Linked DNA regions of Homo sapiens. The protein of the gene in region 4 purifies or fractionates together with the protein of the main gene of each other region. This does not show direct contact. Each region holds a gene or a part of one and is shown on either strand. Other genes may lie near its edges. The genes, in order: CCDC117, DNAJC7, MYH9 and HSP90AB1.

Region 1 (7,248 bases), on a different chromosome or scaffold from region 4:
GAACTCCTGACCTCGTGATCCACCTGCCTCGGCTTCCCAAAGTGCCGGGATTACAGGTGTGAGCCACCGCGCCTGGCCTTACTTCTTTTTCTATTAGACTGTTTATGAGATATAATTTTTCATCTATTAGTTGGGCAGCAATCCCGAAGTTTAAAAACACACTTGTGTTCAGAGGATGTTAATGGGCATATAAATTGGCAAAAACTCACGTTCAAAATTTAAAATGCACACACTTTAAGACCCAGCAATTCCACGTCAAGGAAATCATTCATATACTTCCAAACATATACAAAGAACTTCAAAAGAATGGTCAGGGTAGATTGTAATAGCAAAAGATTAGAAATAATTTAGAAATGCATCAATAGGAAATTGGTTAATTATCTACACCAAGTCCTACGATAGAATTCCACACAACTACTTTCTTTTGTTTTTTTGAGACGGAGTCTCACTCTACTGCCCAGGCTGGAGTGCAATGGCGCAATCTTGGCTCACTGCAACCTCCACCTCCCGGGTTCAAGTGATTCTCCTGCCTCAGCCTCCTGAGTAGCTGGCATTACAGTTACGCACCACTACCCATGGCTAATTTTTGTATTTTAATAGAGATGGGGTTTCACCATGCTGGCCAAGCTGGTCTCAAACTCCTGACCTCCTGATCTGCCCTTCTCAGCCTCCCAAAGTGCTGGGATTACAGGTGTGAGCCACCACGCCTGGCCTCCACTCAACTATTGAAAGAGAAATTACGTAAACCTCTCTCTATGTGCTGATATGCAACAAGCTACAGAAGAGTAAAATGAAAAGATCAATGTGTTGCACAGTGTGAACCATATCTTCCTACAAATGTAAAAACACAGCCACTGCACTCCAGCCTGACAGAATGAGGCCTTGTCTCAAAAAAGAAAAAAAGAAAGAAAAAGAAAAACACTTGTGAACTTGGTAAATTTTTAGATTATCTTCTAAAGGAGACAATGAAAACAGGTAAGGGGGTTGTCTCTGGTGGGGAAAACTAGGGGTGTGGAGTAAAAGATTTTGTAATACAGCCTGGGGGACGGTTCACACCTGTAATCCCAGAGTTGGGAGGACTGCTTGAGGCCAGAAGTTCATGACCAGACTGGGCAACATAGTGAGACACCATCTCTACAAAAAATTTTTTAAAAAATTAGCTGAGCCTGGTGGCACAAGTCTGTAGTCTCAGCTGTTCAGGAGGCTGAAGCTGAGGGATCATTTGAGCCCAAGGAGTTTGAGGCTGCAGTGAGCTGTGATCACACAACTGCACTCCAGCTTGGGTGACAGAGCCCCTGACTTTAAAAAAAAAAAAAAAAAAAAGACTTTTCAGGCCGGGGCGGCTCAGGCCTGTAATCTCAGCACTTTGGGAGGCTGAGGCGGGAGGATCATGAAGTCAGAAGATCAAGACCACCCTGGCTAACACAGTGAAACCCCGTCTCTACTAAAAAAAAAAAAAAATTGCCAGGCGTGGTGGCGGGCGCCTGTAGTCCCAGCTACTCGGGAGGCTGAGGCAGGAGAATGGCATGAAGCCGGGAGGCGGAGATTGCAGTGAGCCCACATAGCGCCACTGCACTCCAGCCTGGGCGACAGAGGCAGACTCCGTCCCAAAAAAAAAAAAAAACAAAAACAAAACTTTTCAATATGTATCCTTTAAATTATTTTACTTTGTGCATGTAATATTAACATGGCTCAAAATCCAAATATTACAACTTGTTATAGAGCGAAAAGTTTCCCTCTGACCTGTCTGCCTGCCACTGTTACTTTCTCTAAAAGACAACCAATGTCACTAATTTCTGTGTCTCTTTCCAGAGACACTCATCTAATGTTTCACCTTTTCACTTAAGTAATTTAGACTATAACAGGGGTTCAACTAACGGTGACCACAGAGTGAATAAACAACCACTGAAACTTACTCATCATCCTCCTCCTCCTCTCGCTTGTGTTTCTTTTTACAGTGAACAGAAACACTGTTGAAACAAACAAAAATCAGTCAATTAAGAAATGTACTCGAGCTTGTGGTTTCAGTATCCTCTTTCTTGCTCCAATAATCTTGCTCATCCCCACATACCAAACGTCCCTTTCTGAGCCTAGTGGGATGGGTACAAATCACAGGTCAGTCGGGTAACGGTGGATTGCCCCGACAGAACTGGACAGTGAAATCTCAACTTGTCCTTTTATCAACGTAATGGAAGACAGATTAGGGAGGACCAAACCAGGGAAACGTCCTCGGGGCAGGCGCTGTGTTAAGCACTTTATTTAAATAATCTCACTAAGAGGACCCATTTCTGTCCCATGCTTGGCATACTTTGCAGATGAGACACTGAAAGTTGTCACTAACAGCGGCCGCGCCGAGGGGGCACCCAGACCGAGTCGCCCAGGTTCCAACTGGGAAAGTCTCACTTCTCCGGGCCGCAGTCGAGCTGAGGTTCGGACCGGACTCCTGGGCTATGTGACCCCCGGCGACTTACAGTTAACGTCTCCGGGGATCAGTTTCTTCATCTGTAAACTGGGCTGCGAAGCTCCCGCGGAGGGCCGTGGGGAGGGAGTCAAAAAGCCCCGGCGCGGAGCCCGCGCCCCTGCCCGCGCCCGCCGCGAGGGGCGCCCAGCCTGCCCGCCCGCCCGCCCGCCCTGCGCCCTGCGCCCGACGGGCTCCTCACCGTCCGCGCGCCGCACTCCCAGCGGGACTGCTAGGGACTGCGCGAGGTCCCGGCCGCGGGGCCAACTCGGCGCCGTCAGCCCCCGGCGGGAAGGCCCGGCCGGGGAAGGCCGGCTGCGGCGGCTGCAGGAAGTCCGAGCCGCCGCTCAGAGGGAGGCCGCTGAAGGGCCGGCCGAGCGCAGCCATAGCCGGCGAGACGAGGAGGCTGCGACGGCGGCCTCGGCCGCCCGCGTCCCCAGGCCCGGCAGCCGCAGCCACAGCTACTGCCAAAACCCGCCAGCCTCGGATCCCGCTCTCGACCCCACGTCACGCCTTCTAGAACCCTCCACCTCAGGCCGCTCGGGGGCATGCCGGGATTTGTTGTGTGTAGAGGGCCGCTGCCGCGAGGGATGCCGGGATTTGCAGTCCTTCCGGACTACAAGCAAAATGGCTGCTTCTCGACCTCTTAGCTGGGGCTTAGGGTGTCTCTGGCTGGCCAAGAGTATGACCTAGGTTCAAATCCTCACTCCGCAAGTTTCGTATCTCAGTTTCCACAGTAGTAAAATGAGATAATAATAGTACATATAATCATAGAGTTGATGTGCGGAGTACATGAATTTAAACATCTAGAGCCAGGGCAGGGCGGTGGCTCACTCGTGTAATCCCAGCAATTTGGAAGGTGGAGGCGGGAGGATCTCTTGAGCCCGGGAGACCCTGTCTCAAAACAAAAACAATCTAGAGCCCTTAAAGCAGTGCCTGACATACAATACACGCTCATTATCAGTTATTCATATGTGACTCTATTAATAAAAATGTAACAATTTTAATACAAATGAAGTTGGTGGTGCCTTAGAACAGCATAGAAAATTAAGTAAAAACCTCAGCTGCTGGCTGGGGGCGGTGGCTCACGCCTGTAATCTTACCACTTTGGGAGGCCGAGGTGGGCGAATCACTTGAGGTCAGGAGTTCAAGACCAGCCTGGCCTACGTGGTGAAATCCCGTCTCTACCAAAAATATAAAAAATTAGCCAGGTGTGGTGGTGCGCGCCTGTAATCCCATGTACTCGGGAGGCTGAGGCAGGAGAATCGCTTGAACCCGGGAGGCGGAGGTTGCAGTGAGCCGCGATCGTGCCACTGCACTCCAGCCTGGGTGGCAGAGCGAGACTACGTCTCAAGAAACAAAACAAAACAAAAAAACACCTCAGTTGCGCGGCAAGGTGGCTCACGCCTGTGATCCCATCACTTTGGGAGGTCGGAGGTGGGAGGTGGGAGAATCGCTTGAGGCCAGGAGTCCATCCTAGGTCTAGCTTGACCCTATCTCAACAACAAAAAAATAACAATTAGCCCACCGTGGTAGTGCATGTCTGTAGTCCTAGCTACTGGGGAGGCTGAGGTGAGAGGATTGCTTGAGCCCATGAGTTTGAGGTTACAGTGGGCTATAATTACACCACTGCACTCCAGTCTGAGTGACAGAGCAAGACCGTGTCTCAAAAAAAAAAAAAAAAAAAAGTAAACTCAGGACTTAAACAAAAACAAAAGCCTCAGAGCACTTGTGACAGGTACTGGCAAGCCTTCCAGCCTCTTTGGGGCATTCAGAGGCAGTATCTCCTGCCTGGGCTTGGCAGATGGTCAACCCCCAATCACTGACTATGCCCTGTTTTTTCCATCTCACAACAGCACCACCATCCAATCGAAACTGCTTATGCCAATGTCAATGCCCTTCAGCCAAAGCACACACATGTACATAATTGAACAAAGAAAGGTTTATCTACTCATTCCAGTGAGGAAATTTCTCCCTTAGGAGGTGTTACAAAGGCTTTTTATAGGATTTGGGGTTGTGTTAGACGTTTTGAGGGAAGGTTTTAAAAAACAGCTTTTGGCTGGGCTCCGTGGCTCACGCCTGTAATCCCAGCACTTTGGGAGGCCGAGGCAGGTGGATCACGAGGTCAGGAGAGCGAGATCATCCTGGCTAACACGGTGAAACCCCGTCTCTACTAAAAATACAAAAAATTAGCCGGGCGTGGTGGTGGGCGCCTGTAGTCCCAGCTACTCGGGATGCTGAGGCAGGAGAATGGCGTGAACCCGGGAGGCGGAGCTTGCAGTGAGCCGAGATCATATCACTGCACTCCAGCCTGGGCAACAGAGTGAGACTCTGTCTCACAAAATAAATAAATAAATAAACAAATAAATAAATAAATACAAAAAATTAGCCGGGGGTGGTGGCGGGTGCCTGTAGTCCCAGCTACTTGGGAGGCTGAGGCAGGAGAATGGCGTGAACCCGGCAGGCGGAGCTTGCAGTGAGCGGAGATCACGCCACCGCACTCCAGCAAGGGAGACACAGCGAGACTCCCTCTCCAAAAAAAAAAAAAAAGAACTTTTCGGCCAGGTGCAGTGGCTCACACCTGTAATCCCAGCACTTTGGGAGGCCGAGGCAGTGGGATCACAAGGTCAGGAGTTCAAGACCAGCCTTGTCAATATGGTGAAACCCTGTCTCTACTAAAAATACAAAAATTAGCCAGGCATGGTGGTGGGCGCCTGTAGTCCCGGCTACTCAGAAGGCTGAGGCAGGAGAATAGCTTGAGTCGGGGAGCCCAGGAGGCAGAGGTTGTAGTGAGCTGAGATTCGAGATCGTGCCATTGCACTCCAGCCTGGGCGAAAGGGCAAGAGAAAGAAAAGGAAAGGAAAAAGAAAAGAAAGAAAACAGCTTTGCTCTGGAATTAATTCTGTCTGGAAGTGGGGATAAATTTGTGATTGGGTGTCCTTTTTGTTTTGAGACAGTGTGTCACTCTGTTGCCCAGACTGGAGTGCAGTGGTGCTATCTTGGCTCACTGCAGCCTCTCCCTCCCAGGTTCAAGCAATTCTCGTGCCTCAGCCTCCTGAGTAGCTGGGATTACAGGTGTGTGCCACCTTGCCTGGCTAATTTTTGTATTTTTAGTAGAGATGGGGTTTCACCATGTTGGCCAGGCTGGCCTCAAACTCCTGACTTCAAGTGATCTGCCCGCTGTGATTGGGTATCTTAACCAATCTTTTCTATAAGGTGTGAGGAATGAAGGAAAGCTCAACCTCTAACTGGTAAAGTAGCAACAGTCCTTCATATCAGTTAGGGTAGGGTGGTATTTAGCAATTTTTGTGGTTTGGACAATGTTTATGCTTTTGCCTGTATTTGGACAGGATTAAGTGAACTTGTTTTTGTCGTGATCCATGAGGTCAGAATAGCCTTGTTTGATAACGCTCTGTGAAATTTTTATGTTTAACAGGAGGACAATGAAGTCTAACAGTATTGTGTCTGGAATTTATTCTTTCCGGTTGGTTCTTGGTCTTCCCAACTTCAAGAACGAAGCCATGGACCTTCGCGGTGAGTGTTACAGCTCTTAAAGATGGTGCGTCTGCAGTTTGTTACTTCAGATGTTCAAATGTGTCCGGAGTTTCTTCCTTCCGGTGGGTGCGTGGTCTTGCTGACTTCAGGAGAGAACCTGCAGACCTTCACAGTGAGTGTTACAGCTCTTAAAGGTGGCCTGTCAGGAGTTGTTTGTTCTGCCAGGTGCGTTTGTGATCTTGCTGACTTCAGGAATGAAGCAGCAGATCCTCGCGGTGGGTGTTATGGCTCATAAAGGCAGTGCAAACCCAGAGTGGGCAGCAGCAAGATTTACTGTGAACAGTGAAAGAACAAACCTACAGTGTGAAAAGGAACACGAACAGGTTGGCGCTGCTGTCTCAAGTGGCCAGCTTTTATTCCCTTATTTGGTCTTGCCCACATCCTGCTGATTGGTCCATTTTACAGAGTGCTGATTGGTCCATTTTACTGAGCGCTGATTGGTCCATTTTACAGAGTGCTAATTGGTGCGTTTTTACAGAGTGCTGATTGGTGCATTTACAATCCTTTAGCTAGACACAGAGCACCGATTGGTGCATTTACAATCCTTTGACTAGACACAAAAGTTCTCCAAGTCCTCACTGGACTCAGAAGCTCAGCTGGCTTCACCTCCCAGTATCAAGGAAGTTTCCTCTGTCAGAAGATACTTTTCTCTTTCTGACCAAAAACCAAGGCATCACCATGAATGCCTCTCTTTTGTTCACACCCATATCTAGTCAGTTAGCAAGTTCTATGGACTTTACTTGCAAAATGCTTCCAGATTCTCCCCATTCCTCTCTAACTCTATTGCCATTGTGATGATGCAAGAGAAAACTAACGAACCCCCTTTGCCAAGATAATGGATTGGGTTTCAGTTTTCTTAATGCCATTTACAATTCAATTTTGCATTCTTAAAGTAAAATCCTGCTTAACTGGATATAAAAGATACTCTCCTGGGCAATTTCTACAAATGGCCACCTCATTCCTTACCTTAAAAAATATCCTTTTTTCCAGCCTTGGCTACCAAATAGTCTTGTTGACTCTGGGGTTTAGGGGAAAAAAAAAAAAAAAAATATTTTTCCAGGCTGGGTGTGGTGGCTCACATCTGAAATCCCAGCACTTTGGGAGGCTGATGTGGCTTGAAGCCAGAAGTTCAAGACAAGTCTGGGCAATATAGCAAGACCCAGTCTCCAAAAAAAATAAAACCTAAAAAATTAGCCAGGCATGATGGTGCATGCCTGTTGTCCTAGCTACTACTG
Region 2 (8,516 bases), on a different chromosome or scaffold from region 4:
TCATGGAATTTAAGTGTCATTAGGCTGGGTGCAGTAGCTCACACCTGTAATCCCAGCACTTTGGGAGGCCGAGGCAGGTGGGTCAGCTGAGGTCGGGAGTTTGAAACCAGCATGGCCAACATGGCAGAACCCTGTCTCTACTAAAAATACAAAAATTAGCGGGGCGTGGTGGCACACACATGTAATCCCAGTTACACGGGAGGCTGAGGCAGGAGAATCGCTTGAACTCAGGAGGTGGAGGTTGCAGTGAGCTGAGATCGGGCCATTGCACTCCAGCCTGGGTGACAAAGTGAGATTCCATCTCAAAAAAAAGTCATTGATTGCAGAATGCAAATTATTTTATCTGTCACTAAGAAAATGTAACTGTAAATTAAACATGACAACATGCATTATTCCTGTAGTTCAAATAGTGACAGAAAAAAATTAATTAAAAAAAGAAAAAAGACTGGGCGTGGTGGCTCACACCTGTAATCCCAGCACTTTGGGAGGCCAAGGCGGGTGGATTACCTGAGGTCAGGAGTTCGAAACCAGCCTGACTAATACGGTGAAACCCCATCTACTAAAAATACAAAAATTAGCCAGGTGGGGTGATGCTGTAATCCCAGCTAGTCAGGAGGCTGAGGCAGAGGTTGTGGTGAGGGGAGATCATGCCATTGCACTCCAGCCTGGGCAACAAGAGCAAAACTCCGTCTCAAAAAAAAAAAAATCAATTAAAAAAAGAAAAAAATGCATTCTTATCAGACTTTTATGTTTCTCATATATAGCACTGTTTTCGACAGACTTAAACATAGTTATTTATTATATACCACTTTTTTGCACAAATCAAAAGGAAAATTGGCTGGGTGCAGTGGCTCACACTTGTAATCCCATCATTTTGGGAGGCTGAGGTGGGCGGATCACGAGGTCAGGAGTTTGAGACCAGCCTGGCCAACATGGTGAAACCCCATCTCTACTAAAAATAGAAAAAATAGCTGGGCGTAGTGGTGGGCACCTGTAATCCCAGCTACTCGGGAGTCTGAGGCAGGAGAGTCGCTTGAACCCGGGAGGCGGAGGTTGCAGTGAGCCAAGGTCACACCATTGCACTCCAGCCTGGGCGACATGGTGAGACTCCATTTCAAAAAAAAAAAAGGAAAATAAGTGAAATAAACAAAAAAATCAGTTTAACTTTTTGCCATATCAGACATCCTTAGAAGAATAAACATTGGCCGGGCGCGGTGGCTTATGCCTATAATCCCAGCACTTTGGGAGGCTAAAGCAGGCTGATCACCTGAGGTCGGGAGTTTGAGACCAGCCTGACCAACATGGAGAAACCCCATCTCTACTAAAAATAGAAAAAAAAAATTAGCCAGGCATGGCGGTGCATGCCTGTAGCCCCACCGACTTGGAGGCTGAGGCAGGAGAATCACTTGAATCCGGTAGGCGGAGGTTGCGGTGAGCCGAGATCGTGCCATTGCACTCCAACCTGGGCGACAAGAGTGAAACTCTGTCTCAAAAAAAAGAATAAACATTAGGCTCTGTTAGTATGAAAAAGCCTTGTTTATGTATGATTTTTCCAGTGCTGAAAATGGGATGGAGATTTAGAAGCTTTGGAGGGAGGTGGTTTTATGTTTTTCATGTGTCCTGGATTCCTCTTGTGTGGCCATAGCAGAGGGCAGTGATAGGGGCATCCCTTACAAATGCCCTTTTACTGTCTGGCTTGGTTAGAGTTCTTTGGCCAAGTTCCTGCCTCTGTTGTTATGGTCCTCCTACCAGTTCATTTAGGGATCAAGAGTTAATGAGTCTCTCGGGTCGTTTTTGTGAGGTCCAGCTTTGTAAGGAGTCCTTCCTTCCTTACGTCTTGGCTTAAGACATGTCCTGCTGCTGCTAAGTTGTCACAGTCCCATAGGGGGGCAAAATGAGAGGAGCTTTTAAGACGGACTTCACGATTGCAGCATTTTAAATGGCTACATGTTTTATTTCCTTAGCTTTAGTGTTTCTGTAGAGAAAAGAGATGGATTTCAATTTTTTTGCATGTCACTCTGACAAAGTTCTGTTTCCCTTACAGCAGCCAAGAAACTAAAATAAGGCTAGGCTTAGTGGCTCATGCCTGTAATCTTAGCACTTTGTGAGGCCAAAATGAGAGGATCGCTTAAGCCCAGTAGTTTGAGACCAGCCTGGGCAACATAGTGAGACTTAGTCTCTATAAAAACATTTAAGGCTGGGTGCGGTGGCTCACGCCTGTAATTCCAGCACCTTGGGAGGCTGAGGCCAGTGGATTGCTTGAGGCCAGGAGTTCGAGACCAACCTGGGCAACGTGGTGAAACCCGCCCCCCATCTCTGTAAAAAAAAAATACAAAAATTAGCAGGGTGTGATGGTGCATACCTGTAGGCCCTGCTACTTGGGACGCTGAGGTGTAAGTATCACCTGAGCTGGGGGAGGTCGAGGCTGCAGTGAGCTGCGATCACACCACTGCACTGCATCCTGGGTGACAGAGTGAAACCCTGTCTCAAAAAAAAGGGTTGGGGCTAAAATAAAAGATATATTAGTTGGCACTCCAAAACAGATCAGGATTCTATGCATGAAGATTATTTCTCTTTGCTCACCAAAACAGGCAAAGCTATTTATGAGCCAGAGGGTTAAACTTCAGATGTTTCACATTTCAACTAACTTAAGGCTTTATATTTTCCTGGGAAGTTGCTGACTGCTTTACCTAATATGGGAATACCTGTCTTGAATTAAGGATCTCTTGTTATATCTCCTGGGCTGGGAAACAGCTTGATCTCTATAGGGAGTCTTTCTTATGGTAAACTTGAGGGATTTCAAATTGTTTTCTTTTCTTTTTGACGGAGTCTCGCTCTGTCACCAGGCTGGAGTGCAGTGGTGTGATCTCAGCTCACTGCAAACTCCGCCTCCTGGGTTCAAATGATTCTCCTGCCTCAGCCTCCCGAGTAGCTGGGACTATAGGCGTGTGCCACCACACCCAGCTAATTTTTGTATTTTTAATAGAGACGGAGTTTTACCATGTTGGCCAGGATGGTCTCGATCTCTTAACCTCATGATCCGCCCGCCTTGTCCTCCCAAAGTGCTGGGATTACAGGCGTGGGCCACTACACCCAACCTCAAATTGTTTTTCAAAGAGAAAACACTTACGTGTCTCAGCATATACCTAGTGTGACTGGACAACAAGATCTAAAAGAATCAAGGGATCCATAGACTTAAGAGTCAGGACATCCTTACCTGATTCCTTGAGCTGATAAACTTAACTTCTCTGTATGTTTTCCTGATGGGCACAAATAAGAGCAATTCTTATTAGGCCCTTACTACCTAGGTATTGTACACTCTTTGCGATTAGGATTTTGCCTTTTATTTCTCTATTCAGATTGTTAATGGGAACAACTGAACTCTCAATTCATGTCCCGGGTTTCCTGTAGTTGCTGTTCGTTTGCTGCAGCTTTGCATGGTGTTTTTGAGTTTGTGGCCTCACTTAACTGAAGAGCTTGTGGGCATGCCTCCCCAGCTTTCTTCCTTACCTGGTTTTAAATTCTTAGGAATGTGTCCTTCTAATCTTCCTCTTGAAGTTTCAGAGCAAGCACCTAGACATTTCAGTAAGCCTCCAAACTGAGTGGGAATTTATCTTTGACCTGGAACCCAAATCAGTGAGAAACACTATTTTCCTTTTGCTGTGCACTAAGTGTAGTCAGATGTGAAGAAATGGGAGATGGGAGGAGAAATAAGTTAAGGAAGGGATAAACCTAGGAATACAGAATTCTCAATACCGGCAAATTAATTGAACCCTGATACTAACAGATGGCAAAGTAGATAATCATAACTGGAGCAAAGGTAGAGTACAGAGAAAGGTTCTCTCTTAGTGCTTTAGTTCAGATCCACATGTTAACTAGTGCCAGAGAAACAAGAATTTTGAGAAAATATAGGGCCAAGTGAGTGGCAGTTGCTTAGAGTCCAGTCCACTCCCAACAAACAGAACTCTGATTGGCCGAAAGCCCAGCCTTATTGTACATTCCAGCCAATCAGGGATTAGTTTAGTCATTGAAGTTTGTATTTTAATGGTTTTGAAAAGCTGAGTACTGGGCACTTGCTTTTTTGTTCTTCGGGACTTTAGAAGTTTGGAGAACAATAGTCAGCAGTTGCCTAGTTGCTTTGTGGCCTGATGCAGAGTCCCTCTGAGAGCCCATTTCTCCCTTACTGCACTAGTCTTTGGTCCCCTTTCTCCAGCACTGAGTGATGTGGAAGTTACTCAGAGGTCTTTCCAGGTATTCTTTTAAACTTTTGAAGTAAGAACAAAATTCAAAGTGCAGTTATCCTAACAGGCTATTCATTTTATTGGAGTGACACTGTTTTTCCTTCTCCCATTCGGATCAAAATGGCAATTCCTATGTTTTACCCTCACCATGGGTAAGAATATGAGTGGTTGAGGCTTTTGAGAATGGTAATAGGAGGAATATATGACTCTCAGGTCTTATTCTGAGACGTGAAATTCTATTGGCATGTGACTTACAATTTGTGTGGGGAGGCCAGATTGTCAGATAAGCAGTGTTAACCATCTCTCTTGATTCTAATATTACTTTTGGAGAGAGTGTGAGGGGCAAGCAGGACCCTCTCTTGTTTTTGGAGTTTCTGTCCTGAGAGTTCTTCCTTGGACAGTTTGCCCTGAGACAGTTAACCACCTGTTGAACTAAGGAACCAAGACAACTTTGAGAAGTGAAATACCGTTGACAATCCAGGCTCCTCCCCACTCTAGTTCCCATCTCCACCCCACCCCACTCCACCCAAAAAAACTCAGGAAGCAGCCTTTATATATATATATTTTTGAGACAGAGTTTCATTCTTGTTGCCCAGGCTGGAGTGCAATGGCGCAATCTTGGCTCACTGCAGCCTCCGCCTCCCGGGTTCAAGCAATTCTCCTGAGTCAGCTTCCTGAGTAGCTGGAATTACAGGCATGCGCCACCACGCCCGGCTAATTTTGTATTTTTTTTTTTTTTTGTAGAGACAGGGTTTCTCCATGTTGGTCAGTCTGGTCTCGAACTCCCGACCTCAGGTGATCCACCCGCCTTGGCCTCCCAAAGTGCTGGGATTATAGGCGTGAGCCACTGCACCCGGCCTAGGAAGTAGCCTCTTTCTTTCTCTCTTTCTGTCTGTCTCTTTCTTTCTTTCTTTCTTTGTGATGGAGTCTTGCTGTGTCTCCAGGCTGGAGTGTGCAATGGCACGATCTCGGCTCACTGCAATCTCCGCTTCCTGGGTTCAAGCTATCCTCCTGCCTCAGCCTCCTGAGTAGCTGGGACTACAGTTGCATGCCACCATGCCCAGCTAATTTTTTATATTTTTAGTAGAGACGGGTTTCACCATGTTGGCCAGGATGGTCTTGATCTCATCACCTCAGGATCTGCCCGCCTCGGCCTCCCAAGTGCTGGGATTACAGGCGTGAGCCACTGCGCCAGGGCAAAGCAGCCTTTTCCTTAATTGTAGTTCCTCAGTTTTAAATTTTTGATGGGTGCTGGTGTCCCTATAGTGGGAGATGTCACAGAATAGGGAACCGAGGGATGGAAAATGGTGGGTTTGGGGATATGTTATGAAAACAAGCCTCTGGCTAATGCTGAAAAGCCAGTGACTTGTATCCTCAGAATGGTTTCAGAGAAGCATGTTTCCCAGAAGTAGCTTCATTGTTGGGTCTCCTCTCCCCAGGGATAAGTGAAGGTTAGGTAGATGTAATAGATTGTGACACCTCTCATTTAAGGACCTAAAATAAATTTCCAACTCACCGTTGAGACAAGTATTTCCAAGTGAATATGTTTCTGCCTGCAGTGATGGGATTTCTGTAGGGATTGAATTGGTTGCTTGCTTTTTCTTCCTTACTGAATAAGGCATAGCCAGCTGCATAGCCAGGCACAGCTTGCTGGCTGGTGTCCGTCCCTGCCTGAACAGTAGGGAGTGCTGCTGCTTTGTGTAGACAGTCTGTGACTCCTCTGGTGCATTTTGGGTCCCTTCTGACTCTGCCCGTGTTGAGGCTTCTCCTTGAATGTCCACCCAGAGGACAATTTGAACTGGTATGTTAAGGAATTTTCTTCATCTTCTGCCTTCTCTTTATTAGCGGAGATGTGTGGAGGGTTGTTCCATTTGTGCTTTAAAGTGAAAACTATCTATTCTGTAGGAAATTGGGTAAAGAAAGCTGAGTAGCAGATAGCTTTGCTAAAAGGTAGCAGTTGGATAGCGCTCACCTTCTATTTTTTTCTGGATGAAGCACCGAGCATAAATACCTTGCCATATTTATAGAATTATTCCAAGTCATATATCTATGGCCCGGCGTGATGGCTCACGCCTTTAATCCCAACACTTTGGAAGGCAGAGATTGGCGGATCACTTGAGGTCAGAAGTTTGAAGACCAGCCTGGCCAACATGGCAAGACCTCATCTCTACTAAAATAAACAAAGATTAGCCAGGCATGGTAGTGGGGCCCTGTAATCTCAGCTACTCAGGAGGCTGAGGCAGGAGAATCACTTGAACCTGGGAGGCAGAGGTTGCTGTGAACTGAGATCACACCACTGCACTCCAGCCTGGGCAACAAGAGTGAGAGTCTGTCTCAAAAAATATATGTCTGACCCGGCGCGGTGGCTCACGCCTGTAATCCCAGCACTTTGGGAGGCCGAGGCGGGCGGATCATGAGGTCAGGAGATTGAGACCATCCTGGCTAACACGGTGAAACCCCGTCTCTACTAAAAATACAAAAAAATTAGCTGGGCGTGGTGGCAGGCGCCTGTAGTCACAGCTACTTGGGAGGCTGAGGCAGGAGAATGGCGTGAACCTAGGAGGCGGAGCTTGCAATGAGCCGAGATGGCGCCACTGCACTCCAACCTGGGTGACAGAGCGAGACTCCGTCTCAAAAAAAAAAATCTATATCTATATATATATATCTATACCTGTGACTTCCACTTATCTATGTGAAACTTATATTGACATTTCACTTGTAGAATAGTAGATTTTTTTTTTTTTCTTTTTTGAGACGGAGTCTCACTCTTGCCCAGGCTGGAGTGCAATGGCACAGTCTCGGCTCACTGCAACCTCCGCCTCCTGGGTTCAAATAATTCTCCCGCCTCAGCCTCCCGAATAGGTGGGATTACAGGCACCCTCCATCATGCCCGGCTAATTTTTGTATTTTTGTAGAGATGGGGTTTCACCATGTTGCCTAGGCTGGTCTTGAACTTCTGACCTCAGGTGATCCACCCTCCTTGGCCTCCCAAAGTGCTGGGATTATAGACATGAGCCACCTTGCCCAGCCTAGATTTTTTTTTAAAAAAGAAACTTCTTACCGGGCACATGCCTGTAATCCCAGCTACTTGGGAGGCTGAGACAGGAGAATCAGTTGAACCTGGGAGGCGGAGGTTGCGGTGAGCTGAGATCACGCCATTGCACTCCAGCCTGGGCAACAAGAGCGAAATTCTGTCTCAAAAAAAAAAAAAAAAAAAAAAAAGGCAGTTTTTTCTGGCCAATTGTGGTGGCTCATCATGTGTGTAATCTTAGCACTTTGGGAGGCTGAGGAGGTGGATTGCCTGAGCTCAAGAGTTTGAGACCAGCCTGGGCAACATAGTGAAACCCCATCTCTACTAAAATACAAAAATTTAGCTGGGCATGGTGGTGCGTGCCTGTAGTCCCAGCTACCAGGGAGGCTGAGGCACAAGAATCGCTTGAACCTGGGAGGTGAAGATTGCAGTGAGCCGAGATCTCACCACTGCACTCTGGCCTGGGCAATAGAATGAGACTGTCTCCAAAAAAAAAGAAATTTTTTTCTTAAAGAAGAATCTAAATGATATGCTTTTGGTAAGATGGAATAGAAGTTAGGCTCCTGGGCTCCTTTTACTTTATTTTGTCATGAAGGTCAGGGAGAGTGCAACATGAAACAGGCCCTGTGACATGCCATTGGGGACAAGAGGTCTCGGACTGTGGGAAGGAGGAAAGAATTTCTACTCTGACTGGCCAAGATCCCGTGAATTCTGAAGGGTGGAGGGCATTTCTAGATCAACAGGCAACTAGTAAGTTTGACTGAATAAAATAAATGGAGCACAACAATCATAGAGTAAGGCGACATTTGGGGAGTAGTAAATATAAGAGGAATGCATAAGGGATATTGACTCATTGGCAGTATAAAGTATTATTATTAATAGCCTAAAGGAAAAGAAAAGTATCTTTTTCTTTTTCTTTTTTTTTTTTGAGACAGGATCTTGCTCTGTTGCCCAGGCTGGAGTGCAGTGGCGCGATGTCAGCTCACCGCAAGCTCCATCTCCCGGGTTCACACCATTCTCCTGCCTCAGCCTACTGAGTAGCTGGGACTACAGGCGCCTGCCACCTTGCCTGGCTAATCCTTTTTTGTACTTTTAGTAGAGATGGGGTTTCACCGTGTTAGCCAGGATGGTCTTGATCTCCTGACCTTGTGATCTGCCTGCCCAGCCTCCCAAAGTGCTGGGATTATAGGCGTGAGCCACCGTGCCTGGACTTTTTTTTTTTTTTTTTTTTTTGAGACGGAGTC
Region 3 (8,516 bases), on a different chromosome or scaffold from region 4:
ACTAACCGTGGTGACAGGGCAAAAAGGCAACTAAAGACAATCATCTGTGTATCCCACCCCGTAATGCACACTTTGACAGTGTTCGTCACCGTGGACGTGAGCCCAAGCTGAGCTTCATTTTCTACTTTCTGTCCCCTCCTGTGGGCCGGAAGCCAGTGCCCATGGTGCCACCCCTAATGCGCACCTGCCACTCAAAACCAGTGCCCAGCCTGCCGGTCCATCCCCACCACAGGCAGGAAACACCTTTCCTTTTGTTATTCTCCTGTTACTTCTTTTAACACTAAAGACCTTTGTCAAATAGCCTTTTTTTCCTTTTGCAGATAAATCCGAAATTGAGATTCCCCAAATCAAAGAGAGTGACTGGCTGTGTGCAGCCCGACCACACCAGTAAAAAAATGCCACCAGCAATCAGAGCATCTATGCCCACAACCTTGACCACAATGAAGTTTTAAAGTTTTTGTGGGTTTTTTTTTTACACTTAACATTTTTTTTTTGGCCGGGCGCAGTGGCTCATGCTTGTAATCCCAGCACTTTGGGAGGCCGAGGCGGGTGGATCACAAGGTCAGGAGATTGAGACCATCCTGGCTAACATGGTGAAACCCCGTCTCTACTAAAAATACAAAAATTAGCCGGGCGTGGCGGCGTGCGCCTGTAGTCCCAGCTGCTGGGGAGGCTGAGGCAGGAGAATGGCGTGAACCCGGGAGGCGGAGCTTGCAGCAAGCCGAGATCATGCCACTGCACTCCAGCCTGAGCGACAGAGCGAGACTCCGTCTCAAACAAACAAACAAAAAAAAATTTGTTAAACTAAGGTTATTCTTGTTACATGATATGGCGTATCAGAGCTGTTTTTACGTGTTAATTATTCTTTAATTATTAGTGAGGTGAAGATTTCCAAGTATGTGTCCCACACTCCGGGCTGCTTCTTGGAACCATCGCCCCAGAGCCCAGAAGGCTGAAGGGTGTCAGGACCCGGGTGATTCTGGAAGTCTGCATTAAGTGAGACCTTCTTGAACTCCACCCATGTCTAGGCTTGTACTTGTTTGCTTCTGTGTTTTATGTACCCAGTCATACACCGTTTTGCAAGTTTGCTGTTGGACTATCATGTTTCCACTCACCTCTGAGCCTCTGAGTCTCTGTCAGTGAGATGGGGCTGGAAGCACCCAGGACCTTCCCAGGAGGTGCCACCCTGCCAGGTTCCCGCCCTGGGCCGAGCCCTGGCACCTTCATATGTAGTTGGCTCAGTCGGGTGCCGCCCACCCTCACCTGGGCCCCGCCCACCCTTACCTGCAGCTTCCGCAGCTGTTTGATGGCTTCGTCCCGGTTCTTGTTGGCCGAGTCGATGTGCGCCTCCAGGTCCTTCAGGTCCATCTCCAGCTTCTTCCGGGCGGCCACTGCCATCGAGCGCTGCTTCCTCTCGTCCTCCAGCTCTGCCTCCATCTCCCGCACCTGGGGGAAGGAACATCAACAACTTGGGAAGCTGGACCCACTGGGAGACCCTGCCCTAGCTCTGAACTCAGGAGCCTCAGGCCAGTTCTGCAGGATCCATGGGGCCTCGGGAAACCAGTGGGGATTACTGACCATAAGAACTCTAAGAAAGTGAGTCACTGAACCCCGAGACAGGAGGCTAGAAAGAAGGAATATGGGAGGGGAGGCGTGGTCAAGGGGCCCTAACACAATCCAGGTGGAAGGAGAGAACAGAAGCCTGCGTGAAGCCAAGGCAGCCTTGGGCACCCATGGGGTAGCAGGAGGCCATGCACACCTGTCTGACCAGCTGCTTCTTCTTCTCCTCGCTCTGCTCGTCCCGGCCCTGCAGGTCCCGCTCGAACTGGGCCTTCATGGCCTGCAGGTTGACCTCCAACCGCAGCTTGGCATCTTCGGTGGCCTGCAGCTCGTCCTCCAGCTCTTCCAGCTGCGTCTTCATCTCCTCCACCTGCTGCTCTAGGGCCCGCTTGGACTTCTCCAGCTCGTGGACCTGAGCCCCAGAGAGCCCAAGTCAGGAGCAAAGGGACTGGCAGGTACCTGGGTCTGCGCGACCCGGAGTCTGTGCACACACCGACCCTCTGTGATGACCCCACTCGGGCCCTTCCCAAGACCTGGCTGCCAGGCCCAGGACTCACACTCTTGCCCACATCATCCTTGGAGCTCATAAGGTCCTCCATCTCCGTGCGGAACTGCTTGTTGAGCCGCTCCAGCTCCGCCTTCTGCTCCATGGCTTCCTCCAGGGCCCGGGCCAGCGACAGAGCCTTGGTCTCCTTCTCTCGGGCCTCCGCCTCAGCCCGGTCGCGCTCCTCTGCATACTTGGCAGAGATGGTCTTCTCCTCCGCCAGGAGCTGGGAAAGAGGTGGGCACCATGAGGCTCAGAGCTACGGCCCCCAGCAGGGCAGGGCAGCTGGGCCTAAGCTCCCTGGGGAAGGAGGAGCCCAGAGGCCACGGTGGAGAGGAGCAGGCCTAGGAAGCACAGGCCCAGGGCTGTGCCCAGGACAATACACACAGTCCCGTGCATCCTCATGATGGGATGACTGCCGACTGGAGCAGGCACTACTGCGAACACCATGTTGTAACGTCTGTTTAATTTTCATCACTTACTAATCGCAACCCTTTATGGCACGCTGCCCCTTCCATGAGAGCCCTCCAAACCTGTAAGAGCTTTGGTTCTCCTGAACCACAGCTGGCATTTGGTTGGCACTTTTCACGAAGTGAATGCCAAGCTGGCTGCCAAGAAGCCTGAACCCCATTTGTGGTCTTCTCTAATGACAGCTGCTGTCCCCTGGCATCTGTTCTCTGTGTGCACCCACCTGGCTCTATCCTATTTCCCCACCTTCCCTTCCTTTTGGCCCAAACCTTAATTATCCCATGGGTTGCTGACCATTTCCTAAAGGGCCAGATAGTGCATTCTTTAGAGTATGCAGGCCCTACAGTCTCTGCAGCAATGGCTCAACCCCACTACCACAGCACAAAGCAACCAGAGACAACATGAGAACCATGGAGCGTGGCTGTGTTCAGTCTATCGTTCCCTACAAAATGCAGGGGCCGGATCCGGCTACCACAGTTGGCTGCCCGATGTCTTCTACTGTTCTATCCTGCCCCCGAGTCCACATCCCCCTCAGCTGCTCTCAGATCTTTTGGAATAAGGAAGTGATATGAATGCATAAATAAATCGTTTAAAAGACAGTCAAACCGCAGGAGTTTGAGACCAGCCTGGGCGATATGGTGAGATCCCTGTCACTATGAAAAACATCTAAAAATTAGCTGGGTGTGGTGGTGGTGCACGCCTGTGGTCCCAGCCACTCAGGAAGCTGATGTGGGAGGATCACTTGAGCTGTGGTTGCACCACGGCACCCCAGCCTGGGCAACAGACAGAGACAGTCTCCAAAAAAAAAAAAAAAAAAAACCCAAACTATTTTAAAAAAACCCAAACTATAATTAAATAATTATAATAATGTAATGATATAATGATAATTAAAGTGATTTTAACTCAGTGCTCAATGGAGCCCAGGCTGGAGTGCAGTGGCGTGATCTCGGCTTGCTACAGCCTCCACCTCCCAGCCGCCTGCCTTGGCCTCCCAAAATGCCAAGATTGCAGCCTCTTCCCGGCCGCCACCCCATCTGGGAAGTGAGGAGCGTCTCTGCCTGGCCGCCCATCGTCTGGGATGTGAGGAGCCCCTCTGCCTGGCTGCCCAGTCTGGAAGGTGAGGGGTGTCTCTGCCCGGCCGCCATCCCATCTAGGAGGTGAGGAGCGCCTCTTCCCGGCCGCCATCACATCTAGGAAGTGAGGAGCGTCTCTGCCCGGCCGCCCATCGTCTGAGATGTGGGGAGCGCCTCTGCCCCGCCGCCCCGTCTGGGATGTGAGGAGTGCCTCTGCCCAGTGGCGACCCCGTCTGGGAGGTGAGGAGCATCTCTGCCCGGCCGCCCCGTCTGAGAAGTGAGGAGACCCTCTGCCTGGCAACCGCCCCGTCTGAGAGGTGAGGAGCCCCTCCGCCCTGCAGCCGCCCCGTCTGAGAGGTGAGGAGCCCCTCCGCCCGGCGGCCACCCCGTCTGGGAAGTGAGGAGCGTCTCCGCCCGGCAGCCACCCCATCCGGGAGGGAGGTGGGGGGGTCAGCCCCCCGCCAGGCCAGCCGCCCCGTCCGGGAGGTGAGGGGCGCCTCTGCCCGGCCGCCCCTACTGGTTAGTGAGGAGCCCCTCTGCCAGGCCACCACCCCGTCTGGGAGGTGTACCCAACAGCTCATTGATAGCGGGCCATGATGACAATGGCGGTTTTGTGGAATAGAAAGGGGGGAAAGGTGGGGAAAAGATTGAGAAATCGGATGGTTGCCGTGTCTGTGTAGAAAGAAGTATACATGGGAGACTTTTCATTTTGTTGTGTACAAGAAAAATTCTTCTGCCTTGGGATCTTGTTGATCTGTGACCTTACCCCCAACCCTGTGCTCTCTGAAACATGTGCTGTGTCCACTCAGGGTTAAATGGATTAAGGGCGGTGCAAGATGTGCTTTGTTAAACAGATGCTTGAAGGCAGCATGCTCTTAAGAGTCATCACCACTCCCTAATCTCAAGTACCCAGGGACACAAACACTGCGGAAGGCCAAAGGGTCCTCTGCCTAGGAAAACCGGAGACCTTTGTTCACTTGTTTATCTGCTGACCTTCCCTCCACTATTGTCCTATGACCCTGCCAAATCCCCCTCTGCGAGAAACACCCAAGAATGATCAATAAAAAAATTAAAAAAAAAAAAAAAAAAAAAAAGACAGTCAAACCAGTTCATTAGAGAAAATCTGAAAAATGTAAAAAATCAGAAAGGAAAAGTCACTCCTCAACCCATCGCATGAAGACGCCCTCTTCCGCTGGCCTTCTCCCTGGGACCCTCAACAAGCCAGAGCCTGAGGGTCCTCTAAGCACTGGCCCCGCACGGCCCCTCCCCGGCGAGACCCTGAGGGAGCCCAGGCTTTCTCTGATGGGCCCTTTGCTTTGGACTCAGTGCTTGAAGGAGAGGAAATGCAAAGGATGGGGCCAACGGCCACACACCTGGTCAAACTTCTTCTGCTTCTTCTCCAGGTTGCACGCGCTCTGGCGCTGGTGGTCCAGGTCCACCAGCAGGTCGTCCAGCTCCTGCTGCAGCCGCGTCTTGGTCTTCTCCAGCTTGTCGTAGGCGGCCACCTTCTCCTCGTGCCGCTGGCTCAGGCCCTCCAGGTCCTTCTGGAGCTTCCTCTTCACCTCCTCAGCAGTTTCCAGGCACCCCACACTGTCCTCCATCTTCTTTTTCATGTCGGCCACCTGGGCAGGAGCAAGGAGTAAGCAGATGCCCGAGATGGCACCTGCTCAGGTGGCACACCCGTCCCTGGGGCAGCTGGGAGCCTGCCTGCCACACCGTGGAAGGGGCACCAGGGATCTGCCCAGTTATGAAACCGCCTCCCCCAGTCACTTCCCTCTCCACAGGGGCGAGACAAATGGAGCTTCTGCAAAGGGGCATCTGTCTACTGTGTGAAGCCCGGGGGAGGCTGACCCCCAGGCCCGCTGTGGGGGCTCCCAGCCCACATCCACACCAAGCCTCTTGCTCTACGGAGACTGCTCCCAGAGAGCAGGGCCAGTGCCCTGTAGGGTGTCCACGGGGTCCCCATCACCCAGCCCCATCCTTGCACTTGGAGATAAACCCACAATCAGGCACGCTCGCGGGCTACTCCTACCCTGACTGTGGAATGGACTCCCAGCCCATCCCGAGGTGGTTCAGGCCTTCTGGCCTGGCACATGGAGGCCCAAGATAGGATCTAGAGCAGGGGCTCTGAAACCATATTAGGCTACGGACCCCTTCGCAGTCTAGAGAGGCCAAGGGACTCCTTCTCATGACAATGTTGTAACAGGCATGAAATAAACATGGGATCAGCAGGGCAACCAGTACAGAAAAATGCAGTTGTCACACATTCTAAAAAACCATGGCTCAGGAAGCCACGTGCTGCTAGATAGCACATCAGATAACAAACAGCGCAGGCCTGGGACCCATGAGGCCAAGGAGCTCGGCCACAACCCTGACAGGGTAACTGGCCATTTCTACAGATGATGACGGCACAGGGACTGCCACCACCATGGCTTGCTGCCTACATCCATAATGGAAGCAATGCTGAATTTCAGCTAAAGACTGGTGAAAATAAAGGTGTAAAATAGTGAAAATAGTGGTGTCCCCCATCTAAGTCCACAGATCCCTGGATTCCTTTCCTTGAGAGCACTGATGTGGGAGAGCACGGTTGGCTTCCCAGGGGGAGAGCAGCAATGGGCCGGCCCAGCGGGCAGGGCTGTCCTGCAGTGCCCAGGCCAGTGCCCGGCCAGCAGCTCCCCAGCCTGCAGAGTCCGGCCGGTCCCCCAGGCCTCCAAACCTGGGCATGGAGGGTGGCGATCTGCTTCTCCAGGTTGTGCTTGGCCTCCTCCTCCTCCTCCAGCTGCTCCCGGAAGGAATTCTTCTCGTCCTCCACCTGCTTGAGCTTGGTGCTCAGGCTCAGCTTCTGCCGGTTCTCCTCCTGCAGCAGCTCCTACTCGCGGGTTGAGAGGGGTGCGGGTGCTTAGGAGGGTGGTGTCCAAAACCCAGGAACCCCACACCCTTGAGGAGAGGGAGGAGCTGGTCCTGCTGATTTAGGGGATGGCCACGTAAAGACCTGGAGGGAGCTGGGAGGACGCAGAGACCCACCCACAGGATGAAGCAGATGAAGGAGAGGATGGGCAATCCGATGGGCTCTGAAGCTAATGTTGCGTGGACACAGAGGCCTTTCTGGAGGGGTCCACCTTCTGGGAACCTGGCGCCACCCCTACCTGAGTGTCCTGCAGCTGGGACTCCAGCGCGGAGAAGTCCTTGGTGAGCTTGCTGGACTTGCTGTCGGACTGGCTGAGAAGCCCGGTCACGTTGTCCAGCTCCACCTGCACCGGGCGGGGAGACACAAAGGACCATGGACCCACCCCCACTGCTCCTGCCCCACCTCATCTCCTTTAGGTAAAGCTGGACCTGAGTCACAAGCTGAACCATGAGGGTCTGAGGAGCCAGTTTGAGAAGAGAGAGAGACAGAGAGCACACATGCACCTGGGGACCTGGGCCACAACTGCTGCTAGGGCCCACTGCCCGCGCCAGGGTCCTGGCGGAGGCCTCACCTGCAGCTTGGTGACCTTGTCGGCCAGCTCTGTGCGCACGCGCTCTCCCTCGTTGAACTTGACCTGCAGCTCCTGCAGCTGCGCCTCCACTTTCTTGCGCTTGTGCTCCGAGTCCCCTTTGCCCTGCAGCAGCACCTTCACCTCGTTGGCCAGCTCCCCCCGCTCGTTCTCCAGAGTCTGCTTTGCCTTCTCGAGGTTTGCTTTCACCTAGCAGGGAAGAAAGCAAAGACGTGAGTGGGGGCCTCCTGACACAAGGCTGGCTGGTCTATCATCACTGGACCCTAGATCCAGACATCGCTGCTTCTGCAGCCCTGACGACGGTGTGCCTGCGTCCTGGACTCAGACGGCTCGGGCCTCATCTGTCCTGTCCTCTTCTCTCTTAGCTGGTGGGTGACACTTGGTTCCTGTCTTCACTGCTTAGGACATCTCACAGCTTCCCCATCTCTAAAATAATACCTGCCCAGCCTTCTGCCCTGGGTAGAGGCCAGGTTCTAGGGCATGGCATTGGTGTTGCAGATGTTAGCAATATTTGTAACGCAATAAGGGGAACTATAATTGTTTGCAGTTAGACTTCCAATAAAGCCTGTCTGAAGTCTGATGTTCAAAGTAACGATGTAATGTTTTCACCCTCAAATAATCACGAGACAGACATACCATAATCCTCCCTTATGAACAGGGAAACTGAGGCACGAGTCACAAAGCCCCTTAGAAGGGGAGCCTGGCCTCAGAACCAGGCAGTTGGGTAGAACCCTGCAACTGCTCTGCAGGACTGGTTTGGATTCTGTGGGCCCAGCACGGGGAACCCTGCCCTCCCCCTGCGGTCTCAGGGAGGCTCCGCACCCGCTTCGTCTGCTCCAGCTGCTCCGCCAGCTCCTCCACGGCCTGTGAGTGCTTCTGCCTCATCTCCTGGATCTGGGCCTCGTGGGTCTTGGCCTCCTCCTCCAGGGTCTTCTTCAGGATGTTCACCTCCTGCTCACGTTTTGACCTGGACAGAGAAATCCCCTCAGAGTGGAGGCCGGGGATGCTGGAGCGAGGCTGTCCCTGGGGCTCTTCCCTGACCAAAGAGAGGCCTGGCCAGGGCACAGGCACTCCAGGCAGCTTTTCTACCCACCGGCCCCTCCTAGCCATCTATCCCATAGCCCAGGCTCAAATACGCCCTGTGAGAGCTTCTGTAGCCTTTCAGCTTTAAAGCCCAGCCTTGCCTCACCCCCAACTTTGAGCCAGGTCCTTCAACAGACTTTCTACTCTGTAGAGAGAAACCGCTGAGGAACCAGCAGCTTCCATGCCTGCTGGTGCCTAAGAGGGCCACGGTGTGTGTGTGTGTGTGTGTGCAGAGGCCCGGGGTCCATGTCTCCAAGCCAAGGCCCCCCTGGCTGCCCTCCCCATCCCGAG
Region 4 (5,799 bases):
TGCTGTTTGTATTTCCAGGCCTTGGACAAGATTCGCTATGAGAGCCTGACAGACCCTTCGAAGTTGGACAGTGGTAAAGAGCTGAAAATTGACATCATCCCCAACCCTCAGGAACGTACCCTGACTTTGGTAGACACAGGCATTGGCATGACCAAAGCTGATCTCATAAATAATTTGGGAACCATTGCCAAGTCTGGTACTAAAGCATTCATGGAGGCTCTTCAGGTATTGCAGTTCTGTAGGCATTCATACTTATCTGTGTTCTTTGGTTTTTTGCTTCTTTAAAACTTGTGATTGACTTTAAACTTGTTGGCAGGCTGGTGCAGACATCTCCATGATTGGGCAGTTTGGTGTTGGCTTTTATTCTGCCTACTTGGTGGCAGAGAAAGTGGTTGTGATCACAAAGCACAACGATGATGAACAGTATGCTTGGGAGTCTTCTGCTGGAGGTTCCTTCACTGTGCGTGCTGACCATGGTAAGTTAGCTTTTCTGTTACAAGGTAGTTGGGTTAGGATTTTCTGGGCTCACACCAGTAGCAGAAATTTTGGGCATCCTGTCTGTAAAGCAGTTCTTCACAGCAGTTCTGCTGATACTTACTAATTGCTGGTCTCAACTGCATATACTTTTTACCCTGTTACACGCTTGTAATTGACTCTTCTAGGTGAGCCCATTGGCAGGGGTACCAAAGTGATCCTCCATCTTAAAGAAGATCAGACAGAGTACCTAGAAGAGAGGCGGGTCAAAGAAGTAGTGAAGAAGCATTCTCAGTTCATAGGCTATCCCATCACCCTTTATGTGAGTATGGACTTTTAAATCTTTTACACTTAACGTGCAGGATGTTTCCTGTTCTGGAGAATCTCATTGTCCCTGGCTTTTGCTTTCCCTGGTAGTGTTTTGTACTCCAAGGCTAACTTCTGTTTTTGTTACTTAGTTGGAGAAGGAACGAGAGAAGGAAATTAGTGATGATGAGGCAGAGGAAGAGAAAGGTGAGAAAGAAGAGGAAGATAAAGATGATGAAGAAAAACCCAAGATCGAAGATGTGGGTTCAGATGAGGAGGATGACAGCGGTAAGGATAAGAAGAAGAAAACTAAGAAGATCAAAGAGAAATACATTGATCAGGAAGAACTAAACAAGACCAAGCCTATTTGGACCAGAAACCCTGATGACATCACCCAAGAGGAGTATGGAGAATTCTACAAGAGCCTCACTAATGACTGGGAAGACCACTTGGCAGTCAAGGTGTGAGAAGCCTTTGCATGTTGGCTCAACATGCACATATGGAGAGGAATGAGTTAGGTGGAAGAGTGTTGGGTAATAGACACACGGAACTTGTCCAACTGATAACAGAAATGTGATAGCCATGTGATTTCACTTACTGATTACCCTGTCATAGTGAAGTGCCATCATTTCTAATGACCTCACTTTCTCTTCTTATGGAAATCTGGGTAATGTCTATTGGCAGCCTTACACATCCAGGGTTCTGATCAGAGGGGACTGTTTTCTACATACAGCTAGTACCCATCTAGATCGTGGAGGGCATTAAGGCTCAGTTTTCTCAGGAGCTGCTTGTTGTGTGTGCTCTATCCCTTAGGCTTAGGGAGGATCATTGTTCCACTTTTAGATAATTTGGTGTTGGGGCTAAAAGGTCCTCTTTTGAAATGTACCACTTATTTTTGGTTTCTTTCAGCACTTTTCTGTAGAAGGTCAGTTGGAATTCAGGGCATTGCTATTTATTCCTCGTCGGGCTCCCTTTGACCTTTTTGAGAACAAGAAGAAAAAGAACAACATCAAACTCTATGTCCGCCGTGTGTTCATCATGGACAGCTGTGATGAGTTGATACCAGAGTATCTCAGTGAGTATCTCCTTGGCCTAATTTAGTTGGGTGAAGTCTTGGGAGGTTTTAGGCATTCTGCTAGGATATTCTAAGGTAACAGTTTTCTGCAATACATAGTAGGTGTAAGGGTTCAGGAGGCTATTAGAGCCTTCTGTTTGAATCTGGGGACCAGGTCTGGTCTAGCTGTTTTTTACTGAGCTTTCTCACCCTGGTTGATGGCAGATTTTATCCGTGGTGTGGTTGACTCTGAGGATCTGCCCCTGAACATCTCCCGAGAAATGCTCCAGCAGAGCAAAATCTTGAAAGTCATTCGCAAAAACATTGTTAAGAAGTGCCTTGAGCTCTTCTCTGAGCTGGCAGAAGACAAGGAGAATTACAAGAAATTCTATGAGGCATTCTCTAAAAATCTCAAGGTAAAAAGGCAAATAATGCTTATTCCCTTTACCACTTTCTTAGTAATAACAATAAATTATTCCATTCACATTGAAAGTGAAGTTATTGTAGTTAAGCTGGATTGTTTTTCCTCTTCCCACCCTTCAAGCTTGGAATCCACGAAGACTCCACTAACCGCCGCCGCCTGTCTGAGCTGCTGCGCTATCATACCTCCCAGTCTGGAGATGAGATGACATCTCTGTCAGAGTATGTTTCTCGCATGAAGGAGACACAGAAGTCCATCTATTACATCACTGGTGCGTTGACTCTGATTGAAGCCTTTTTGGAGGAGTGGGGAGCACAATTAGGGCTTCCTGGGAACTGGCAGTATGAGGCATTTTAGTCACTGAGTTCATTTAATTACCCTACAGGTGAGAGCAAAGAGCAGGTGGCCAACTCAGCTTTTGTGGAGCGAGTGCGGAAACGGGGCTTCGAGGTGGTATATATGACCGAGCCCATTGACGAGTACTGTGTGCAGCAGCTCAAGGAATTTGATGGGAAGAGCCTGGTCTCAGTTACCAAGGAGGGTCTGGAGCTGCCTGAGGATGAGGAGGAGAAGAAGAAGATGGAAGAGAGCAAGGCAAAGTTTGAGAACCTCTGCAAGCTCATGAAAGAAATCTTAGATAAGAAGGTTGAGAAGGTAAGCCATTCTGGGGCTAGGATATATTTTGTAACATCTTCGAGGTGGGCTCCCTCACAAGCATGTTTCTATACAATTAGTGGTTTGAGGCAGCCTATTTACTGTTTCATGCCTTCTTGCCTCTTGTTCTCTTCTCTAGTCAGGTTTAAGGCTATTTTAATAAAATTTGGCACAGATTAGGCATTGCTTCAGTTAACTTCTGAGAGTAGATAAAATACCATCATTTTCTTTTTTTTTTCTTTTTTTGAGATGGGGTCTCGCTCTGTCACCCAGGCTGGAGTGCAGTGGCACGATCTCTGCTCATTGCAAGCTCCGCCTCCTGGGTTCACGCCATTCTCCTGCCTTAGCCTCCTGAGTAGCTGCCACTACAGGCGCCCGCCACCACACCCCGGCTAATTTTTTGTATTTTTAGTAGAGATGGGGTTTCATCGCGTTAGCCAGGATGGTCTCCATCTCCTGACCTTGTGATTCGCCCACCTCGGCCTCCCAAAGTGCTGGGATTAACAGGCGCAAGCCACCATGCCTGGCCGATTTTTTTTTTTTTTGGACTGGATCTCGCTCACTGCAAACTCAAGTCTCCTGAGTGGCTGGGATTACAGATGTGTGCTACCACACCCGGTTAATTTTTTGTAGACAGGGTTTTGCCATGTTGGCCAGCATGGTCTCAAACTCAAGTGGTCTGTCCACCTCCTCCCCCTGCTGGAATTAGGCTTGACAATGCCTGTTTTCTCTTTCAAAGTGGTAATGTCAATCTAAGGCTTTTGTGATCGTCCACAGGTGACAATCTCCAATAGACTTGTGTCTTCACCTTGCTGCATTGTGACCAGCACCTACGGCTGGACAGCCAATATGGAGCGGATCATGAAAGCCCAGGCACTTCGGGACAACTCCACCATGGGCTATATGATGGCCAAAAAGCACCTGGAGATCAACCCTGACCACCCCATTGTGGAGACGCTGCGGCAGAAGGCTGAGGCCGACAAGAATGATAAGGCAGTTAAGGACCTGGTGGTGCTGCTGTTTGAAACCGCCCTGCTATCTTCTGGCTTTTCCCTTGAGGATCCCCAGACCCACTCCAACCGCATCTATCGCATGATCAAGCTAGGTCTAGGTAAGTAGCTTTGGTACTTGGTGTGGCAAGGAGTTTGTGCAACTCGTCTCCTCTATGGATTTGACTTAATGCTATTTGGTCAAGTCTCACATGGCTTAATTTTACTTCAGGTATTGATGAAGATGAAGTGGCAGCAGAGGAACCCAATGCTGCAGTTCCTGATGAGATCCCCCCTCTCGAGGGCGATGAGGATGCGTCTCGCATGGAAGAAGTCGATTAGGTTAGGAGTTCATAGTTGGAAAACTTGTGCCCTTGTATAGTGTCCCCATGGGCTCCCACTGCAGCCTCGAGTGCCCCTGTCCCACCTGGCTCCCCCTGCTGGTGTCTAGTGTTTTTTTCCCTCTCCTGTCCTTGTGTTGAAGGCAGTAAACTAAGGGTGTCAAGCCCCATTCCCTCTCTACTCTTGACAGCAGGATTGGATGTTGTGTATTGTGGTTTATTTTATTTTCTTCATTTTGTTCTGAAATTAAAGTATGCAAAATAAAGAATATGCCGTTTTTATACAGTTCTGCTTTCCCTTGTGAAGTGGATGTTATCCTTCCCTAGCTTCTTCATCCCTCCAGCTCTTGCTGTTTTCATGAGCACAGCAAGTTGAGCTGGTTTTGTAGTGAAAATAACAGAATACCAGTGAGTCTTAAGAGTTCACACACTGAAGCTAAAGGCAGTTTGGAAAAACTACCATATAATAATGCCCTTTCAGTCAACCAAAACACAGGACCAAGTCCACTGCAGTAATTTAATTTAATAAAATAAAATTATAAGAGCAAAAAGTTACATTTCTAAAGTACCAAAACCTGCAACAGGCTCATGGAACAGAGCCTAGGGATCCAGGAGCATAGGAGGTGGTGGTGCTGGGCAGGGCTCTGCATCCCCTTTCCTCAGCACAGCACCATCTTCACCCTCCTGGGAAAGCAGCATTGGAGCCTACACCGCTTGTGCTTTTCTCACCAGGGTAAGAAATGCAGGTATTTGCAGAGGGGAGTGAGTCTGGAAGGTGGCAGAGCACAGCTAGGGCAAGACTTAAGGGAACTTGTGGGAAGAGTAACTGGAACCTACCTATGCTCTCTTGACCCCAAACTCCCCAAAACCCCTCACTGAGGACTGTCTACCCCCGGGGCTCAGAATAAACTGCTTACTGGAAGATGGGTGACTTAAGGCAAAAGGGAAGGCTGCCTCCTGGGCTCCCCAATCCCCTGCTGCAGAGCTGGTCTGTGATACTGAGAAAACACCTGCATTTTGCCCTTTCAGCCAGCTCCCTCAGAGGTTACAGCAGAAGGGGATGGTGGGAGGGTCCTATTTCACTTCACCCCTCAGGCCCTTTCCACCCTCAAACCTTCTGCACAGGAGACTCAACAGGCACAGCCTTCTTTCCCCGTTGCTTTAGACGGCCCCGCGCGTAGACTCTGAGCAGGAGGGCAGCAAAGACCACAGCCACCCCCAGCCCTCCCACCACAGTGACAGTGTGGCCATAGAGAAGGCAGGAAAGAAGGATGGCAAAGGCCTGGCGGAGGGTCATGATGATGGTGAAGACGGCAGCCCCAAACTGCCCAATGGTGTAAAAGATGAAGAGCTGGCCACATGCGGAGCAGATGGAGAGTAGCAGGGCATGGGCAGCAAACTCACTGTGTCGCCCCATGAAGCGGGTTCCCTCCAGTAGGGCCCCCTGTTCTAGCAGTGAGCCCACTGTGAAGAGGCAGGAGAAGAAATTGACCCCAAACATCATCTGCACCGATGACATCTTATAGGCAAACAGGGCATCCTGCCAGTTTGAGGTGAAGC

Evidence for each region.
Region 1: the proteins of HSP90AB1 (region 4) and CCDC117 purify together in Homo sapiens (affinity purification with mass spectrometry; 4 studies listed by BioGRID and IntAct, with this or other methods). This does not show direct contact.
Region 2: the proteins of HSP90AB1 (region 4) and DNAJC7 purify together in Homo sapiens (affinity purification with western blotting; 3 studies listed by BioGRID and IntAct, with this or other methods). This does not show direct contact.
Region 3: the proteins of HSP90AB1 (region 4) and MYH9 purify together in Homo sapiens (affinity purification with mass spectrometry; 4 studies listed by BioGRID and IntAct, with this or other methods). This does not show direct contact.

Annotation. Positions count from the first base shown.
Region 1 is NC_000022.11:28,768,447-28,775,694, reverse strand, and holds the start of CCDC117 (coiled-coil domain-containing protein 117), read right to left. Parts: upstream 3,001-7,248; 5' UTR 2,846-3,000; coding exon 2,661-2,845; intron 2,559-2,660; exon of another isoform or gene 2,472-2,558; intron 1,971-2,471; coding exon 1,917-1,970; intron 1-1,916. UniProt on the Homo sapiens protein: Facilitates DNA repair, cell cycle progression, and cell proliferation through its interaction with CIAO2B.
Region 2 is NC_000017.11:42,006,786-42,015,301, reverse strand, and holds part of DNAJC7 (dnaJ homolog subfamily C member 7), read left to right. Parts: intron 1-8,516. UniProt on the Homo sapiens protein: Acts as a co-chaperone regulating the molecular chaperones HSP70 and HSP90 in folding of steroid receptors, such as the glucocorticoid receptor and the progesterone receptor.
Region 3 is NC_000022.11:36,286,968-36,295,483, forward strand, and holds part of MYH9 (myosin-9), read right to left. Parts: intron 8,110-8,516; coding exon 7,965-8,109; intron 7,332-7,964; coding exon 7,125-7,331; intron 6,897-7,124; coding exon 6,792-6,896; intron 6,515-6,791; coding exon 6,362-6,514; intron 5,268-6,361; coding exon 5,019-5,267; intron 2,331-5,018; coding exon 2,118-2,330; intron 1,973-2,117; coding exon 1,760-1,972; intron 1,447-1,759; coding exon 1,285-1,446; intron 1-1,284. UniProt on the Homo sapiens protein: Cellular myosin that appears to play a role in cytokinesis, cell shape, and specialized functions such as secretion and capping. Required for cortical actin clearance prior to oocyte exocytosis. Promotes cell motility in conjunction with S100A4.
Region 4 is NC_000006.12:44,249,359-44,255,157, forward strand, and holds the end of HSP90AB1 (heat shock protein HSP 90-beta), read left to right. Parts: intron 1-18; coding exon 19-225; intron 226-316; coding exon 317-476; intron 477-662; coding exon 663-796; intron 797-932; coding exon 933-1,241; intron 1,242-1,689; coding exon 1,690-1,855; intron 1,856-2,059; coding exon 2,060-2,250; intron 2,251-2,378; coding exon 2,379-2,526; intron 2,527-2,640; coding exon 2,641-2,909; intron 2,910-3,686; coding exon 3,687-4,020; intron 4,021-4,130; coding exon 4,131-4,240; 3' UTR 4,241-4,525; downstream 4,526-5,799. Other genes in the region: SLC35B2 (adenosine 3'-phospho 5'-phosphosulfate transporter 1), read right to left, coding at 5,348-5,799. UniProt on the Homo sapiens protein: Molecular chaperone that promotes the maturation, structural maintenance and proper regulation of specific target proteins involved for instance in cell cycle control and signal transduction. Undergoes a functional cycle linked to its ATPase activity.